2 linked regions of the Homo sapiens genome follow. The protein of the gene in region 1 purifies or fractionates together with the protein of each later gene. This does not show direct contact. Each region holds a gene or a part of one and is shown in the gene's direction. Other genes may lie near its edges.

Region 1 (3,810 bases):
GAGACCTGGCAGGTGTTGCTCTCATTTTACTGGAAGTCTAAGGCAGCCATTGAGTGAACTACTCCCATCATATACGAAGGCTTAATCCTAGGAGTCTAAAAAGGAAAGAGAGAGTTCTCTGGGAGAGATTTGCTAGTCAATACTGGTCGATTCTAAATTCTCCCTCTGTGGTCTGTGCCAAGGCTGGGCTGGCTTCATGGACACGTGACCCATGCAGGCCCAAAATGGTATTTTCATTTTCCTATCATCTTGGCCCCCGCAGGGGGACGTAATCAATGCCATTATGTTGCCACACACTCTGCTCCGTGGTTCTCAGAACGTGCTTGTCAGCTCTTCCTGATCTGTTGTAGAACTGTGATCGCTCAGGGAGTCAGAGGCAAACCTGGTGGCCCAGTGGCAAAGCCATGGTGGTCGCAGCTCTCCTTACTGCTACTACTTGGAGTTTATTATGAGGCCCCTTGAGGCTGTGCCCTATGTTGGGTACATCCAAGCTTCTGGTTCATCCCTTAGGAAGATTTTGTGTCTGAGAAGGCAGCGTAAAGTCTGGCAACACTTTGCCGAGCGTGAATTCGCCCACTTGACGGGCTGTGGAAAAGGGGGTTAGTAGATGAGTGTGGGAAACACTGGGTTCAAGAAAGTTAGTTGGATTTTTCAGTCGCAGGACTTCTCAAGAGCTTCACTGTGCAATGCGCAGTGTGACTCCTAAGGAGGGCTTCCAGCAGGCAGTTGCCCAGTCTTTTTGTTTTGTTTTGTTTTTGTTTTAGAGCCGGGGTTTCACCCTGTCACCCAGGCTAGTCTCAAACTTCTGGGCTGAAGCATTCCTTCCACCTCTGCCTCCCGCGTAGCTGGGAATAGAGGTATATGCCAGCACACCTGGCCTCAAACCTTTTTTTTTTTTTTTTGAGACAGAGTCTGGCTCTGTCACCCAGGCTGGCATGCAGTGATGCAATCTTGGCTCACTGCAACCTCTGCCTCCTGGGTCCAAGTGATTCTCCTGCCTCAGCCTCCCGAGTAGCCGGGATTACAGACGCCCACCACCACGCCCAACTTACTTATTTATTTTTTCCCCCTGAGACGGAGTCTTGCTCGATTGCCCAGAGCTGGAGTGCAGTGGCGCGATCTCAGCTCACTGCAACCTCTGCCTCCCAGGTTCAAGCAATTCTCCTGCCTCAGCTTCCCGAGTAGCTGGGATTACAGGTGTGCCACCATGCCCGGCTAATTTCTTTTCTTTTTTTTTTTTTTTTTGAGATAGAGTCTTACTCTGTAGCCCAAGCTGGAGTGCAGTGGCACGATCTTGACTCACTGCAACCTCTGCCTCCCAGGGTCAAGCAGTTCTCCTGCCTTAGCCTCCCAAGTAGCTGGGACTACAGGCACATGCCATAATGTCCAGCTAATTTTTTTTTGTATTTTAGTAGAGATGGAGTTTTACCTTGTTGCCCAGGCTGGTTGCAAACTCCTGAGCTCAAGCAATCTGCCCGCCTCAGCCTCCCAAAGTGCTGGGATTACAGGCGTGAGCCACTGCGCCCGGCCTAATTTTTGTATTTTTAGTAGAGATGGGGTTTTACCATGTTGGCCAGGCTGGTCTCAAGACTCCTAACCTCAAGTGATCCGCCCACCTCAGCCTCCCAAAGTGCTAGGATTACAGATGTGAGCCACTGCACCTGTCCTGTGCCTGTGCTCTTCCAGAGCAAAGTTCCCCACTGGTGCATGGAGGCGGCATCACATTTGTGTTCAGATACGGATCCCCTCAGTCATCAGGGCCCCTGGGCAGGGTCCCCAGAAGCTCGCCACTGGCCTTGGCAGTGTGCTGCCGATACTTTCTTTTGCGGTGGCACGAAGATGACCTGCAGCTCTGCTGTAGAGCAAGTGTTCATGGAAACTGAGAATGAAAGTTCAAAGTGAGACCAGCGCACGCACCGGTGTCTTCTTCTGGCCTCTGACCCGTCTCATCTCTTTGCCAGGCTGGAAGTACACCTTGTTGGAGGCTTCAGTGACGACAGGCAGTTGTCACAAAAACTCACTCATCAACTTCTTAGTAAGTTCATTTTTTTTTTCTTTCCCCCAAATTGGACATAAATATGTACCCATATTTGCTTGGGTTAAAAATCCCAATTGGTACAAAACCCAAGAAGGGCACACCCACTTGGAGCAGCACAGAGAAACAGACTGCCCAGCTTGGAATTTCACAGAAAGACTGAATGCGTGGAGCTCATGTGTAGGGAGGGGTAGCAGGGCTGGGGACAAGATTTTCTACTAAAACAGCAGTGAACACATTCCAAAATAGTAAGTGCTCTGAATTGTGTGAAAGCAGAGCCACCCTCCCTCCTGGCAAAAATGTCCATTTTAATCTGCAGAAAATTAAAACACTGATGATACCATTTTTTCCCTATTAGCAAATTTTTTCTTTTTTTTTCTTTTTTTGAGATGTAGTCTTGCTCTGTTGCCCAAGTTGGAGTGCAGTAGCATGATCTCGGCTCACTGCAAGCTCTGCCTCCTGGGTTCAAGCAATTCTCTTGCCTCACCCTCCTGAGTAGCTGGGATCACAGGCGTGCGCCACCACACCCACCTAATTTTTGTATTTTTGGTAGAAATGGGGTTTCACCATGTTGGCCAGGCTGGTTGTGAACTCCCGACCTGGTGATGCACCTGCCTCGGCCTCTTAAAGTGCTGGGATTACAGGTGTGAGTCACCACACCTGGCCTAAATTAGCAAATATTTTCAAAAAAGAAAGAAAGAAAACATTGTCGTGTGTTGACTAACCACCAGGCCATGAAGCAAGCTTACTCATATGATGGTACAGCCTGTCTGGGAAGCAATTTGGCATCATGACTGAAGGCCTCACTCTGCCACTCAGGCTGTAGTGCAGTGGCGCCATCATGGCTCACTGCAGCCTCAACCTACTGGGCTCAAGTGATCCTCCCTCCTCAGCCTCCCAAGTAGCTGTGACTAGGTGCATGCCACCATGCCCAGCTGATTTTTAAATTTTTTGTGGAGACAGGGTCTCGCCATAACTCTTAAAAAAGGTTCATATCCGGCCGGGCACGGTGGCTCATGCCTGTAATCCCAGCACTTTGGGAGGCCAAGGCAGGTGGATCACCTAAGGTCAGGAGTTCGACACCAGCCTGGGCAACATGGTGAAACTCTGTCTCTACTAAAATTACAAAAATTAGGCCGGGTGCGGTGGCTCATGCCTGTAATCCCAGCACTTTGGGAGTTCAAGGCAGGCCGATCACTTGAGGTCAGAAGTTCAAGACCAGCCTGACCAACATGGAGAAACCCCGTCTCTACTAAAAATACAAAATTAGCCAGGCATGGTGGTGCATGCCTGTAATCCCAGCTACTTGGGAGGCTGAGGCAGGAGAACCGCTTGAACCCGGGAGGTATAGGTTGCGGTGAGCTGAGATCACACCATTGCACTCCAGCATGGGCATCAAGAGCTAAACTCCATCTCAAAAAAAAAAAAAAAAAATTAGCTGGGCATGGTGGCGCACGCCTGTAATCCCAGCTATTCAGGAGGCTGAGGCAGGAGAATCGCTTGAATCTAGGAGGTGGAGGTTGCAGTGAGCTGAGATCACACCACTGCACTCCAGCCTGGGTGACAGAGCGAGACTTCGTCTCAATAAATAAATAAATAAATAAATAAATAAATAGTTCATCCTTTGACCCAGTAATTCCCCTTGTGGAAATATATGCTAAGAAAATAATCTGAAATGTGCATAGAGATTTGAACCTGAAGATGAGCGGTAGAACATTACTTATAACAGGAAATCTGGTGTCATCAGAATAATAATTATGTAGTCGCTAAAAAAT
Region 2 (3,810 bases), on another chromosome or scaffold:
TCCAGCGAACGTGGGTGCTGGTGTGTGTAGGTGCACATGTGTGGGCTGGGTGAGAGTGAGGAGGGGCTTGTGCCTGATGCTCATCTCCGCAGTGGACATGTTTGTGGCTTTTGATCGTGCCTTGTGCTTGGCTGGTTCCTTCATTCTGGGGAGGCTCAGACCTGGTGAACGAGAGAGCCTCCTCTCACTATGGTTCTCCTGGATCCCCTTCTTGCTATAGCTCAGATGATAGGCTGAGCAAAAATAATTGCTCCAGGCCGGGAATGGTGGCTCCCGCCTGTAATCCAGCACTTTGGGAGGCCGAGGCGGGCAGCTCACTTGAGGCCAGGAGTTTGAGAGCAGCCTGGCCAACATGGCAGGTTTCTCAAAGTTAGGGACTGTCTGAGATTGGATTCCTCCAGGAAGTAACATGAAAACAGGGATTTTAGCAGTAGCTTATTTGGGAGGCAACCCCAGGAAGCAGGCACGGAGGTGCCAGGTGAGGCAGGGTGTGTATCAGCAGGTGGCACCTGGAGCTCATCACCACGGGGGCCTCTGCAAGATGGGGTAGGTCACATCCCAGAGCTGTCCTGCCCGAGGAGAAAGAGGCTAGGGTAGGTATCCTCCTCTTCCCATCCATCTGTGGCTGAGGGTGGTGCCTGGGATGCCAGTTCCTGACACTTTTGGCCTGCACACAGATGGGCTCGGCAGGCCAGAGACAGCCTTGAGGTGGAGTCACCGGTGACGGAGGGTGGGGCGCTGATGGCCCTGCTGCAGGGAGAGGTTGTGTGACCTTGTAATGCTGGATCCTAGCAAAGCACCGGCCTAGACAGAGTGGGGAGGGATAAAAAGCTCCCTTGCTAGCTCTCAACGCAGTGTTGTCCCCTGTCCTGGGCTGGTGGCTTAAGTTCTGGCAAGGCCTTGTAGAGCAAAAGCAACTAGAGGCCAGGAGCAGGGGCTCACACCTGTAATCCCTGCACTTTGGGAGGCCGAAGCGGGCGGATCACTTGAGGCCAGGAGTTTGAGAGCAGCCTGGCCAACATGGTGAAACCCCATCTCTACTAAAAATACAAAAAGAAATTTAGACAGGCGTGGTGGCACACGACTGTGATCCACCAAGAGGCTGAGGCAGGAGAATCGCTTGAACCTGGGAGGTGGAGGTTACAGTGAGCCGAGATCATGCCACTGCACTCCAGCCTCGGTGACAGAGCGAGACTCCATCTCAAAAAAATTTTAAAAAGATAAATAGGAACTTGGCCCCTTGGCCACGCCCTAGGAAGAGGGCCAGGTATTTGACTGGTACCAGCTTATAGGCTTAAATGGGGCTAGAAGTACCAGTGCCAGGAAGGAGGCCTTAGGTAGGGACCTCAGTGCATAGGAAAGAAGAGTGAAGGGGGTTAACTGATTAATTTCACTGCTGGAAACTGACCAACCCCAGCCCCCTGCACGGGGAAGCTGGCAACAAGGCGTACAGGTAGGCAAGGGGGCTCCTGTCACCCCACAGTCTCCTCCAGCTTCTTCTCCCACTTCTCCACCCACCTCCCTCTGCTCTCCTCCCTCTCCCCTCCCCTTGCAAACCAATCCTCTAAGACTTCTCCTGCAGAGGGGCTCGGGCAAGGCTGGGGAGGGGGACTACATAGACTTTTCCAATGTGGGGAGCAGCGTTTGGCCCAACCTCCAAGACACATTGTTAAGCTAAAAGAGCGAGACACTCCACCTTGGGGATAACTTGCCCCCCCGGGAGGCCCAGAAAGCGGGGTCGGGGGAGGGCTGTGTGCATGAAGGTGCTGCGATAGTCGCGGGTATTTCTGGTGGGACACACAAGAAATTGATAACTGGGGGAAGGACTGACTGTCTGCGGTGAGAGGAAACTTCCCTTTCATTGCTTTCCTGTTTGGTTTTTTTTTACATGAACATCTGTTTAATTTTGTTAATTAGTTAATTAAAAAATAACAATTACAAAAGGATTAAGGAAGCAAGGTATTGCAAATCTGACCAGCTGAGATTTGTGCTGGGCCCCAAACCAACGGAGGCCCCTCTGCCTTCAGACCCCTCCCTTCTGTGGGCCCCACCCCTCCGCATAACAGCTCACCCCCTCAGCTCACAGCAGCTCAAAAACATTTATGTGCCCAAGAGTCACCCGGGGGGAGGGCCTTAAATGCAGATCCTCGAGCCTATCCCGCACCTTCCCATTTAATAGGACCCAGCTTCGCGTGGGAATCTGCATTTTAAACAAGAACTCTGGGTAATTCTAATCTTCCCATTTTATTATTTTTTTAAAATTTTCTTTTTATATTATTTGAATAGAGATGGGGTGGGGTGGGGGGGGGGTCTCATTTTGTTGCCCAGGCCAGTCTCGAACTCCTGGGCACAAGCAATCCTCCCGCCTCGGCCTCCCAAAGAGCTGGGATTACAGGCATGAGCCACCATGCCCGGCCTAATAATTCTATTTTAGAAAACAGATTTAGGGACAGCTGGTGGAGGCTGAGAGCAAATGAGGGCTGCCATCATGGGGAGTGGCTTGTTCTGCAAGTCATGTGGCCTTTTACAGGGAGAGGGAGGGAGGAGCGGCCAGGATGGGGAGAAAGAGGTGAGAAGAAGAGGTGAGAAGAGGGAGGTCTAAGACACAGCGAGCCGGCCCCGGGCCTGACAGCCATGGAAAACCAGGGCCCGGCACCCCTTCTGTGTCTCTGCACCTCCCTGGGTTTGCCTGTGGACATCTCTGTGTCCAGAGCAAGGCCATTCAAGGTGATGCCAACACTGGCTTCCGCTGCACCCCTCCCTGCTGTCATTCCCGCAGGCCAGCAGTTCCCAGGCAGGATCAGCACCTGTCACTCTGTCGAGACTGATTAGGGCGCACACCTGTAATTAGACCTAATGGGGGTAATTTCCAGGCCAGGCAGGCTGGCTCCTCCGGCAGGAGATTCGTGGCAGGCGGAACGTCGTCGTCGTCGTTGGCCGTGAGTGTTTGCTTCACACAGGGACCTTTGAATTATCTTGTGACAAGGGCTTACAGACACAGGAGCAAGAGTAACTCAGAGATTTGCTGTCACGGAGCCGGGGAGCGGCATTTGGAGGGGAAAGCTCTTCTCTGGGGAGTTTTATTTATAACCTGAGAGTGAAGCCTTGTCCCCGCAAGACCCCCAGAAGTGTGTGGGGCTCAGAGGCTCCCAGGACTTCGTCATGAGTGTTTAGGGAACCAGCTGGGGCAGCAACTGGCTGCCAGGGTCTTCTTGGGCCATCGGCTCGGGAATGAGAGCAGGTCGGGACAGGGCTGTGCAGAGCACGGGGCTTCAAGGCTGGGCTGGGGATGGGACCTGCAGATTCTCCGGGACTTCGAACTTGCCCCAGCGTTGAGAATACCCACGCACAGTGCAGGGGGACGTCAGTGCTGGGGCAATGTCCGGCTTCAAGGACATCAGTGACTGCCGCTTCCCTGGGACCCTTGAGTGTCAGGGATGTCCCCTTGGCCAGAGGCCCCAGGACGAGTCTCCTAAGAAGTGGGGTACACAGAAGGCAGGACCGAGCTTGGCGCAGTTGGACTTTCTAGCACCACCCAACGCTGATGAGGAAGAAAGGAGGTGGTTGCAGGCTTGAGTCAAACAGTTAGATTTCACCCACTGGCTAAAGACGGGAAAGCGGCCTCATTAGGAGATGGGCTGGGCCAGGTCAGGTGCCACCAGGCATGGTGGGGTGGGGAGGTTGAAGCCTAAAACAGACCTTTCTCTGAGTCCGGGATGGCTCCTTCCTGAGTCCTGACTGCTGCCCCTGCCCTTTCAGGTCAGTGATTTTCTCCACGGTGGCTCTGCACTGGGCCTGAGAAGGTTAATG

Evidence for each region.
Region 2: the proteins of NTAN1 (region 1) and MGAT5B purify together in Homo sapiens (affinity purification with mass spectrometry; one large-scale study listed by BioGRID and IntAct). This does not show direct contact.

Annotation. Positions count from the first base shown.
Region 1 is NC_000016.10:15,042,559-15,046,368, reverse strand, and holds part of NTAN1 (protein N-terminal asparagine amidohydrolase), read left to right. Parts: coding exon of another isoform or gene 1-12; intron 13-1,961; coding exon 1,962-2,035; intron 2,036-3,810. UniProt on the Homo sapiens protein: N-terminal asparagine deamidase that mediates deamidation of N-terminal asparagine residues to aspartate. Required for the ubiquitin-dependent turnover of intracellular proteins that initiate with Met-Asn.
Region 2 is NC_000017.11:76,941,324-76,945,133, forward strand, and holds part of MGAT5B (alpha-1,6-mannosylglycoprotein 6-beta-N-acetylglucosaminyltransferase B), read left to right. Parts: intron 1-2,779; coding exon of another isoform or gene 2,780-2,851; exon of another isoform or gene 2,852-3,810. UniProt on the Homo sapiens protein: Glycosyltransferase that acts on alpha-linked mannose of N-glycans and O-mannosyl glycans.